Regions from separate parts of the Homo sapiens genome. Here region 1 is linked to region 2. The links come from fine-mapping of genetic effects on gene expression. A gene starts in region 2. The other region holds a variant in brackets. All regions are shown on one strand. Distances are between the middles of the regions. Region 1 overlaps TGFBRAP1 (transforming growth factor beta receptor associated protein 1). Region 2 holds the start of TGFBRAP1 (transforming growth factor beta receptor associated protein 1).

Region 1 (5,369 bases), 49 kb before region 2:
ACTAAAAATATATGCTCTATCAACTTCCAAAAAGAATCTGATTCCAATCTAAGATGAGCTGAAAAAGTAAACTATGGAAAAATCACAGCTGGAGTTGCTTTACAATTTGCTTCAAATATTAATATAATTTCATATGTCTTTGGTCTACTACTATTAACCCACATGAGGTACTAGAAGAATATGCAGAAGCTACTTTGCCTAAGCAGAGACTGAGAAGGAGGGCAGGGGCTCTGAACATGAGGAACAGCAGGAAGTGCTAGTGTCCGGGACTCGCAGACCACAGAGTCAGGGAGCGTCCTGGGGGAGAGTGCCCAGAGTTCAAGAACCTGGGTTTCAAGTCCAGCTTCATTATTTATAACCCGCGTGACCTTGAGCAAGTAGGTTAACTTGCCCAGCCTCTAACTCCTCACCTATAAATGGAAAAGATCGGCAATAGCATTGGCATTGCCTGGGCAGTGAGCCCTCAGCACCCTCCCAAAGTCTGCAAGGGTGCCACACTCCTGGTCCTCCTTCCCAGCAGGAAACTGGAGTAAGTTGACCAGTGAGGGGTCAAGCATCTTCCCTCCAAGGGCACACTCTCAAGATATTGAGGCATCTGCTTGAATCCTTCTCTTTTCCTCAACCTTTTGGAAAGTCATGCTGACTCTACGGATCCCACCATCCCTTGTCACTACCATAAGGTGGCAGTGTGTTTTCTGGCTCCTGAAAAAACTAACACTGATTCCATAGCATATCCGAGTGGCTGATGGAAACTGCTGAAAAGGCCAATACCCACGTGGAAGGCTCTGACATCTCAGATACTAGCACAGTGACCCCAGGGTCTCTGTGGGAGTTCATCCACGCTTTTGTCATTTCAAATCCTTAACGAAAATCATAGACCGAAAAAATCTTATCCTGTAAATGGAGCTGAGGGATCACCCAACCCCTCTCATTTTTAAAGATAAGAAAAGTGAGGCCTAGAATGGTTGGGCTATGTGTTAGCTGCCCAGAATGGAGAAGCTGCTGGCCCCAACTAAGCCAGGCACTATGCATTAACAGTCCATGATACATAAGGCCATCTACTAACTCATGCACATAAGGAAGGCAGAGTTTTTTGTTTTTTTGAGACAGGGTCTAGCTCTGTCTCCAGGCTGGAATGCAATGGTGCAATCACTGCTCACTGAAGCTTCAAACTCCTGGGCTCAAGCAATCTTCCTGCTTCAGCCTTCTGAGTAGCTGGGACCACAGGCGTGAACCACCACACCCAGCTAATTTCTTCTTAATTTTTAGTAAAGACAAGATCTTACTGTGTTGCCCAAGCTGGCCTCAAACTCCTGGGCTCAAGCAATATGCCCACCTCAGCTTCCCAAAATGCTGGGATTACAGGCATGAACCCCCATGTCCAGCCAAGGAAGGCAGAGTTTAAAACCATACCATGTATCAACAAAATCAAGAAGCCTCCCTTTGAATCTGTTTATCTAGCTATCTATTCAATTCAGTTGTCAGTAACTAAAATGCACTGTAAATTTTACCAATAAACATGTGGCATCTCCCACAAGTGAATACGAGGCTGACTACAAAGGAAATTGAAAAATAACTTCATGGCTGGGCGCAGTGGCTCACCCCTGTAATCCCAGCACTTTGGGAGGCCGAGGCGAGCAGACCACCTGAGGTCAGGAGTTCTAGACCAGCCTGGCCAACATGGCAAAACCCCGTCTCTACTAAAAATACAAAAATTACCTGGGTGTGGTGGCGTGCACCTGTAGTCCCAGTTACTTGGGAGGCTGAGGCAGGAGAATTGCTTGAACCCAGGAGGTGGAGGTTGCAGTGAGCTGAGATCACACCACTGTACTCCAGCCTGGGTGACAGAGCGAGACTCCGTCTCAAAAAAAATAGTCATTAAAAAAAAAAAAAAGAAAGAAAATTAACTTCATTTACTCACAAAGCATATTACTAGTTCCAAACTATACTCCAAATTATTAAAGAATGGGAATGAGAACAAATGCCCTCCAAGACCCCTTCAAGGGGTCTGCAGATGGTGGAGACAGAGAGGGCATCTGAGGAGCACATGCATCTGCTGTCACTATGATTTCGTGGCAGTCACCTATAGGTACTTGGGAACATAAACATCACACTGGCTAAGTCACTTCACGAGGATCTCCCCAGCAAAGAGCCTCAGTAAGGGTGCAGGGCGGGAAGCCCTGATCATATCAGGAAGGGAACACTCACTTTTTGTGCTTCTCTAGCCAGGCAGCACTGTCCGTCAGAAGACAGAAGTTCTCAGTGACCAGGAGGTCCAGCAGGCTGTCGTGGTCAGCCTCTGCATACAGTTTGAGCAAGGCTGTGTCGATGTCCTCCTTGTAGCCATTTGCTACCTCTGTGCTGCGGACCTCGTTCAGGTAGCTCATGAGGAAGCGTTTGCACTTGGCCATCTTCTCCTGGTCCCCCTGGGTCAGCTGGTTCAGGTCTGCGTACTCATGAAGAGGAGGGTGGGACCGGGTGAAGGAGGAGGAGGTGGGCAACAGGAAGGGGTAGAGAGAGATCAGCTCCCGGACATCAAGCTGGCCGCTTCTGCAATTACAGTGTCAAACTAAATGAAGCAAAAAGAGAGAAGAGTACACATAGGCACACAAAACAGCACTGGAGGGGAG[C/T]GCACGGTGGCACACGTTCACAGGGGGCTGGGGAGCTGGGGACAGGGTAATCATGTCAGAGCAACCGTTCTAATCTGAAGTGCAGCAAAGCACCATCCAAGTGGGTGCTGCCACCTGGCTCCAAAAAAGAACAGAAGGGACGAAGGTGAAAGACACATACAGAACTGGTGTGAGAGTGGAACACCAAAATGCCTATGATGAAGAGAATACCCAGCTGAGCCTGGAAACCAAGGCAGAAAAGCAACACCCAGGATAACACGCCATCAGAGTCTGCGCAAAGGCACCATCACAGCTCTGCTGAAACCAGCATTTTCCTGGCACTAAATTACAAACAGATTTGTTGAATGGTCCTTGAAGAAGGGACTTTATAAAAACAGTAACTTACAACTTCCTCACCAACATCTCACAACAGAAGACACAGAAATATTCATGTGGCCATTTCTGTGGGGACTCTCGTAGAATTTCAGAGCCTAACATTGTAATGCAACAAACAGTTCCTTTCCCATCTCCTCTCCGGAACCTCCTTGTCCTGGCTACAATCAGAGCAGGAGCTGTGGATCTCAAACCTGGCCCAGTGTCAGACCCAGCTGTGGAAAACCTCCTGAGGGAACAGAAGCAGGGGCCACCCCACCCCAGACACATGGAATGGCGAGGAAGGACCCAGGATCCATGCTGCCTGCGATGTTCAGAGCATCCTCCTTCATCCAAGCTCTGATCAGCTGTCCTCCTCTACTGGCTTCCACCTCTGGCTGCCCTTCCTTCCACTTCACTCAGCCTCTCCTGACCTCCAGTGATTTGTATAACCCACAGGATAAATTTCAAATCTCTTAGTATGGCATTCAAGGCCCTTCCCAAACTGATCTCAAGCTACCCTACACCTTCAGCCTCAAGCATCCCTCCCACACCCCAACACTTCTACTAGACCCACTTATGTTGCCAGTTTGTACATTTCATGACTCTCAGCCTTTGCTGTGGTTGTTTCCTGGCCTAAAGCAGTGGTTCTTGGTGAAAAGCAATTTTGTTCCCTGGGGAACATGTGGCAATGCCTGGAGACAATTTTATCATGACTGGGGCGGGGGTGTGCTATGGCATCTAGTAGGTAGAGGCCAGGGCTGCTGCCATTAAACACCCTGTAATGCACAAGACAGTAACCCCCTGCCCAAAGAATTATCTGGCTCAAAACGTCTACAGTGCCACAGCTGAGAATCCCTGACCTAAAGTACAATTCTTGATTTGAGAAATTTCTGCTCATTGTTTAAGATCCAGGACGAATCCAGGGAAGATTCCTCCACTGGCTGATGTGAGCCCATGCAACGCTCCCACAGCAGAGCAGCACCTGTGCTGCAGGAAAGGCACACATCCAGTTTCCAAGCTAGAATGGGCATGCCAGAGAAGCAGGCACTGGGTTACCCTTCCATCCATTGCTCAGATGCTCAGGCCACGTTTGCTGAATGAAAGAAGAGCTGAACCTAGCTGATACAACGACAGGGTGCAGGTGGTCTAAAGGAAGAGACACAGAGCCCACATCCCCAGGTTATGTATGATCAATTTTCTCTTAAGTTTCAACCATAACTAGCTGGTAACTGTGGCCTCCGGCACGGCACTGAGGAGTCAGAGGACGGGTCCAGTTCAACGAGGAAAAGAAAATCACAATTTATTAGCAACATTTGCTGTGAGCACAGAAAAGGAAGTGGAATCATCTTTGTCTTAGAAGTATCTTCTTCAAATATCAATTCTCAGGCTGGGCCTAGTGGCTCATGGCTGTGATCTCACCACTTTGGGAGGCTGGGGCAAGAGGATGACTTGAGGCCACGAGTTTGAGACCAGCCTGGGCAACACAATAAGATCCCATCTCTACAAAAAATAAAAGATTAGCCAGGTCCCGTGGTGGCATACACCTGAAGTCCTAGCTACTCAGGGGTCTGAGGCAGGAAGATCATTGAGCCCAGAAGGTCGAGGCTGCGGTGAGCTATGATTGCACCACTGCACTCCAGCCTGGGAGACAGAATGAGATGCTGCTTCAAAACGAAAAAAAAAAAAAAAATCCGTTCTCTCAGCCACACTTTGGACCAAAGACGAGCAGCAATTTAAAGTTAAGCCATTAAGAGAGTGAGGTGCGGAAGTACAGGAATGTCATCCTAATAACAGGCCCCACATCTATTCTCTTACAAAATCCGAGGACTCTTCTAGGAATCCATCTGTGGACAATCACCTAATGTTTCAGATTAACCCATAAGAGAAAGAAGACACCTTGGGATACACCCATGACCCCGGTGAGGAGGTCTTCAACACTGTAGGGCTAACACAAGATACGGCAGAAAAGAGCCTAGGTCCAAAGGGGCAAAAAACTGACTTAAACCCTGAAGCCACGGGTCTTTCCAAGAACAGAGAACAGCATGTAAGAGTTGTACAAGAAAAAGTTATATGGGGCATCATTATTCAAGGAATGATTCCTCCTTTACTTAGAAATCCATTCTCTACAACCGATTGTGTAACTGTAATCATTTTCAGTAATGCCATTCTTCAAATATCCAGCATAGAGTGAAAGATTAGAGCCACCGTGGATGTAAGGACGTGGCTGGTCATGGGCAGACCTCCTACAGAACAGGCAAGGGAGGCATTCTGCTCAAGTCACTACTTGGATGAAAATATCTATTCAGGGGCTTCCTATACATGTTATTTCTTAGATAGCTGTAAACTGTGCACAATCTATTCTGGAGAGACATTTTGAGAACTTAC
Region 2 (5,369 bases):
TAATATCCAGTCAGTTGTCATCTTTAAATATGTGATTTTTTCCTTAAATCTTTAACTTTTTCAACAGCAGTTACTTGACTATCAAGAAAAGATCTTGATTTCAAATCATCTGCAAGATTTCATAATTCACTTTTCATGAGGCACTTAAAGTCATTTGGGGTAGCACCAAATTAAGTTGTTACTCTACATTCATTTAGTAGGTATTTATTTTTTTAAATAAAGAAAAACGAGTCAGGTTTGCTACAGAGATGAGTTGTAAAGTCTGAGCCAAATTATTCGGCAGTATCCAAACACCTGGCTGCCACAAATGACTACTTTAATGTATTTCTAATGAGGGCTGGATTCAGACCAAGATGAAGACACTTAACCCATTAAGTAAAATTTCTTCAAGTTTTCTTAAAAGATCACAAATTTGTAATATTAGCATGAAGGAATAAGCCAAATAACTTCATTTTTTTTTTCCTAACAGAAATGTTAGCTGCATATCAGACCCAGAAAATACAGCAAGTTTTTTGGCTGGGCGCAGCGGCTCAGGTCTGTAATCCCAGCACTTTGGGAGGCCAAGACAGGAGGATTGCTTGAGGCCAGGAGTTTGAGAACAGCCTGGGCAACACAGGGAGACCCCTATCTCTACAAAAAAAATTTTTTAAATTATCTGGGTGTGGTAGTGCGAGCCTGTGGTCCCAGCTACTTGAGAGGCTGAGGTGGGAGGATCCCTTGAGTCTGGGAGATCAAGACTGCAGTGAGCCATGGTCACACCACTGCACTCCAGCCTGGGTGACAGAGCAAGACCCTGTCTCAAAAACAACAGCAAAAAAACCACCCAGAAGACAACAACAAAAAGAAAATATAGCATTTTTAAAATAGTGAGCTCTATGCTTTTAAAACTCCTCAACTGGAGCTGCCTAAATGAAGAATGGGCCCTTTACAAATCCCTGTCTCTGGAGGGTTTAAGCTGAGGTTAGATTGGTCCTGGGATTCCTGCAGTGGTGAAAACGCTCTGCCTCCAATGCTATGACAAGAGGACTGCCATGCACAATCATGAGTGTAGAAGAAAAGGCAGAGTGAATGAAGGCTAACAGTGGCACCTCACCTCTCACCCAATTCAATTGTGTAATGCAAACCTTGATGCACATAGCAAATTGGAATTCAGAACCCACAAGTCTAACTCCAGAGTAAATCATTTGTTAGGTTAACAATTACTCAAAACATAAAACTACATATTTTCAGAGCTGAGGGAGACCTGGCTCTACATCCTCATTTATATTTGTCAGCAATAATTTATTGAGCACCTACTAAATGCCAGACCCTGTGCCGGATCCTTTCCAGGCACAATTTCTTATTAGAATTCATGTGCCTTTTCTAATATTATCCCTATTTTGATGGAGGAATTTGAGACTCAGAATGTCCAGCAAATTGCCCAAAGGTCACAGGAAATGGCAGAGGCAGGATTTGAACCCACACTCCACATTCATTACCACCACAGAGCATCACTCCCATTTCATAGATGACCTGGGGCAGGCTAGTTATGGACAGGTTCCAGCAGATTCCAGCCAGTAGACTTTCTAGTACTCCAGGCAGCGTTTTGCTACACATCACAGAAGCAGCTGCAATGACTGTTGAGGCTGCTCGGCTGGCAGAAATGGAAGGAAAAAGAAAAGGAAGCAGCTGACCAAATGTTCCTTCTGACTGACCATGGAACTGCGAGCTCTCAGTTGTCTGCCAGCTTCCGGCTGACCAACAGAGAGAAGCATGTCCACCATGAGAGAGTAGCAGCCACCACACAGTCCCTCTACATTCGTTCATCCTGACTCCAACCAAGCCAACACACACAACGCAGTAGGATCTTCCCTGCACACCTTCTCAGTGCCTTAACTTGCCACCACAATCACACCCGCAGCTGCCTTCCTTCCTGATAGACAAGGTGCTTGCCCATGAGCACTTCATCAGTGATTAAACTCTGCTCAGACATGTTTTGACCACAGCTGCGCGTGCAGTCCACGTGCAGTAAGGCCTGCTGTGTGATCTGTGAGCCCCCATTTTTAGCAGCCAGGTAGGAGGCTTCCTGAGGGTCACTCAACAGTCCTTGGGTAGAAGCCACGGCAGGTGCAGACAACCGGACAGCTTCCGTGTTTAAGGATATCAACACTTAACACAGGGAGGCAGGCGGACTAACTTGCACCTGCACCTCCAGAAGGCAATGGAAAGAAAACAATTCCACAGGGATGACAGCTTCCAGCCCTTGACCTGGTGCTAAAAACAGGGGCCAGGAAGCCCAGCACAGCACTTTTCCCTACTCCCCAACACACCCCTGCCTACTCTCCAGATCAGGACAATTCAGGCCTGAGTGTGACCCGAATTTGAGCTCTCAAATCCAAAGAGCTCCCAGAAACCTCAATCACAGCGCCAAAACCATTCCATACCAGGGATGGAGGTGCAAGTCCTTCCTGGCCCTTCTCCCCGGAAAACCCAAATCAAGGACGAGGTCTCTCAGGTCTTCCCTTGCCCTAAACACACACGCACTCCTCACACACAACATACACACTTGACCCCACACCCGTGCACACTTCATCCCACACACACGTGAACACTTATTTGCTCACCCCAGCAGGCTAGCCGGCCCCCACAAGGGACAGCTACCAAGTCGCACACCCGCACACCTGCCCCCAAGTGTATAGCCACTTGCTCCCCCCACCCCGCGTTCCAGCCCCCACTACACCTGCCCCAGCGCACACGCACGGGCTCGCCCTCCACCCCGCCCCGCCGCCTACCCCCCACTCCTGCTCCCCGCCCTCCTGCCCCACGCGCCCCGCGCCCTGAGCCCCGCACCCCGCGCCCCGCCGCCCTCCTCACTCACCGGCGCCGGCGCCCGCCGTCCCGCGCCGCCCCGCGGCCTGGGGCCCCGCCGCCCCGCTCCGGCCCGCGGCTCCTGGGCTGGCCCGACCCCGCAGCCGCCGCTTCCCGTCACGTGGGGCGGCCGCCAGGCGCTGGCGGAGGGCGGGAGCGCAGCCGTCTCCGCGCCGCCCGCCGGCCCGCGGGCCCTGCCGCCTGGCTCCGAGCACAGGCCGAGACGGGCCCTGCTCCGGGCCTCGGCGTCCCCCTCCGTGCACCGGGGCCACGACACGGCCCGCCTCGCGGGGCGGCCAGCGGGCGGAAGGTGTTCATTCGGGGGGCGCTGAGGCCGCCGGCCCCGGGCGAGAGCGTGGTCCGCGCCAGCTGTGCGAGCCCGCGGGGCTGAGGTCTCTTCTCCGCCCCCGCCGCTGCGGGGAGCTTCAGGGAAGCCGGGCTTTGCCTGGCTCGCTCGCCACCCAGTTTCTGTCACCTACACAGGAGGAGGGCGCCCGGGAAATACCTGCTGCGTGAATGAATAAATGAATGAAATGCTTGGGCCCTGGGAAATGCTTGGGCCCGCGGCCGCCTGACCACGCGGGCTGGAGGATCGGACGTACCGCCGGTGCCCCACCAGGAGACGAAGGCATGGTTGGGATGCGCAGCCCTCCCACGAGGCCCATGGCGCCCCAGGGCCCTAGGGATTGACCGGGACCCCCGACTGGCAGAGTCCACCTGCTTGATACACTTATTTGAGAAGGGAGGCCTGGGACTATCTTACTCCTTTTAGGAAAACCCAACTGTAGCTGCTATTCCTTTGGTTCAGGCCGCAAGGAAGAATTGTAGGTTACCATGAATCCATGAACCCCTCTTTAGTATACAAAGTCCACTTTCATGACGGAAGAATTGGAAAGCTCCCTCCAGAGTTGTCAGTACTCAATTATTAGCATATAAAAAGTCAAATTTTCCCAGGGATTTTCAGACTTTAGAACCTGCTAGTGACCTGTGGCCTCAGCTTTCTTCCAGCCACTCTGAGTATTGTAAAACAAAGATATTATCCCAACCCTGAAGGCAGATACCAGATTGTACGCCATGGTCTTCTGTTTCAAAGGGATAAAAAAAGAAAGAAAAGAAACTGGCCAAAAAAAAAAAAAAAAAAAAAAAACCCAACAATCTTCCTGTGACTTGCCCTCTACCCCTACCCTAGTGTGACTCATGGCCACATAAATGCCCCATCCCCAGTGGTGCTTCAGCTGTGACCCAGTGGAACCAGTGTCACCGGCTCAGCCTCCAGGTAGGGGACTGGCTTCCCAGGAGTGTAAAGCTCTGACCAGCAATTGAGCTTCAAGGGCAAGCAGCAGTGAATGGACCTTCAAGTCTAAGGTGGCCAACAGCTAGTGGAGCCAGGGATTGGGAAGGTACAAGAGCAAATCCAGTCTCTTCATTTTACCCAGGCTCACAGAGACTATGTGACTTGTCATCAACTAATCACTGGCTCAGGTGGTCCTAGAATTCACCCTTGTGCTTTTGTATCTTAGTCCTCTACCAGATCACATCACAGAGAGCTGCACAAGACTAGTTACAGAGGTGATATCTACTGACTGCCAGACAGTGACTTCAGAAACTGCTAGTGACTGAGCAATGAAGTAGACGCTATTAATTTACTTAATAGCGTCAAAGAATAAATTTAATTCTTTGAGGCAAAGAAAGGTGAATGACTTCCTGTGTTAATTCACTTAGGAAAATATAAATAAAAAAATTTAAAAAGGTGACTTGTCCCAAACCCCATGCTAGTAAGAAAGAGCAACAATAAGAATCCAGAATTCAGCAACAGTAATTCTTTTTATATAAAGTTGTTTTGAATGAATAGTTTATGAACAATCTTTGTGTTCTACTTTAGATGATCCAGGAGTGAAAATGTATAACAAGAGATAATTCAGATATATTTATTTTATGAAAGGATTTATTACAGGATTCTTACAATGGCAAGCTCCATATTATTCCATCTAGAAACATCTGTTCCTTCTGAAACTTGATGAGAAGTCTGTGTCACAAATGACAGGCACCTCCATGTAAATGCCTGTACCATAAATGTGCAAATATATGCACAGGCCAAATTCCTTATGTTGTTTCTATTGGTTACATTTAAGAAGAAATATCAACCATATGGCTTTCAAAACAATTATTAACTTCATTTTTAAATATTTATTAAATATTCCTTGGGCCCATACCGAGCGTTACTTTACAGAATGTGAAAAAGATGTGCTCCGATGAGAACAATTAATGAAGACTGAGTTGCATCGATATAACTGAATATTTTCATAGTTGCTGTCTACTCTCAAAACTTAGTATTTTTATGCTTACACATACTCTGTGCTTCTCACTTTCTCGCTGGGTATACGCTTGGGAGGGCAAGGATTGTGTCTATGCTCTCTGCTGTATCTTTCTGCATGTAGAAAACACTCAACCAATTTTTAAAAATTCTTGATGCTCAATATTGAAATATTAACTAGATTACTTTTTTTTTTTTTTTTTAGACA

What was found. PIP is the estimated chance that this variant, and not a neighbour inherited with it, causes the effect.
Region 1: its variant is fine-mapped to the expression of TGFBRAP1 in whole blood (TOPMed, PIP above 0.99).

The regions. Positions count from the first base shown.
Region 1 is chr2:105,278,174-105,283,542 of GRCh38, forward strand. It overlaps TGFBRAP1 (transforming growth factor beta receptor associated protein 1), which reads right to left. Exons shown (of 12, transcript NM_004257.6): 6 at 2,209-2,550. Among named protein-coding and RNA genes, the nearest start is that of GPR45, 39 kb to the left of the region's middle. The variant C/T (reference allele first, on the strand shown) is at 2,631.
Region 2 is chr2:105,326,768-105,332,136 of GRCh38, forward strand. It overlaps TGFBRAP1 (transforming growth factor beta receptor associated protein 1), which reads right to left and starts at 2,968. Exons shown (of 12, transcript NM_004257.6): 1 at 2,858-2,968. It overlaps C2orf49-DT (C2orf49 divergent transcript), which reads right to left. Exons shown (of 2, transcript NR_187479.1): 2 at 4,762-5,369. RefSeq lists a silencer at 2,853-3,282.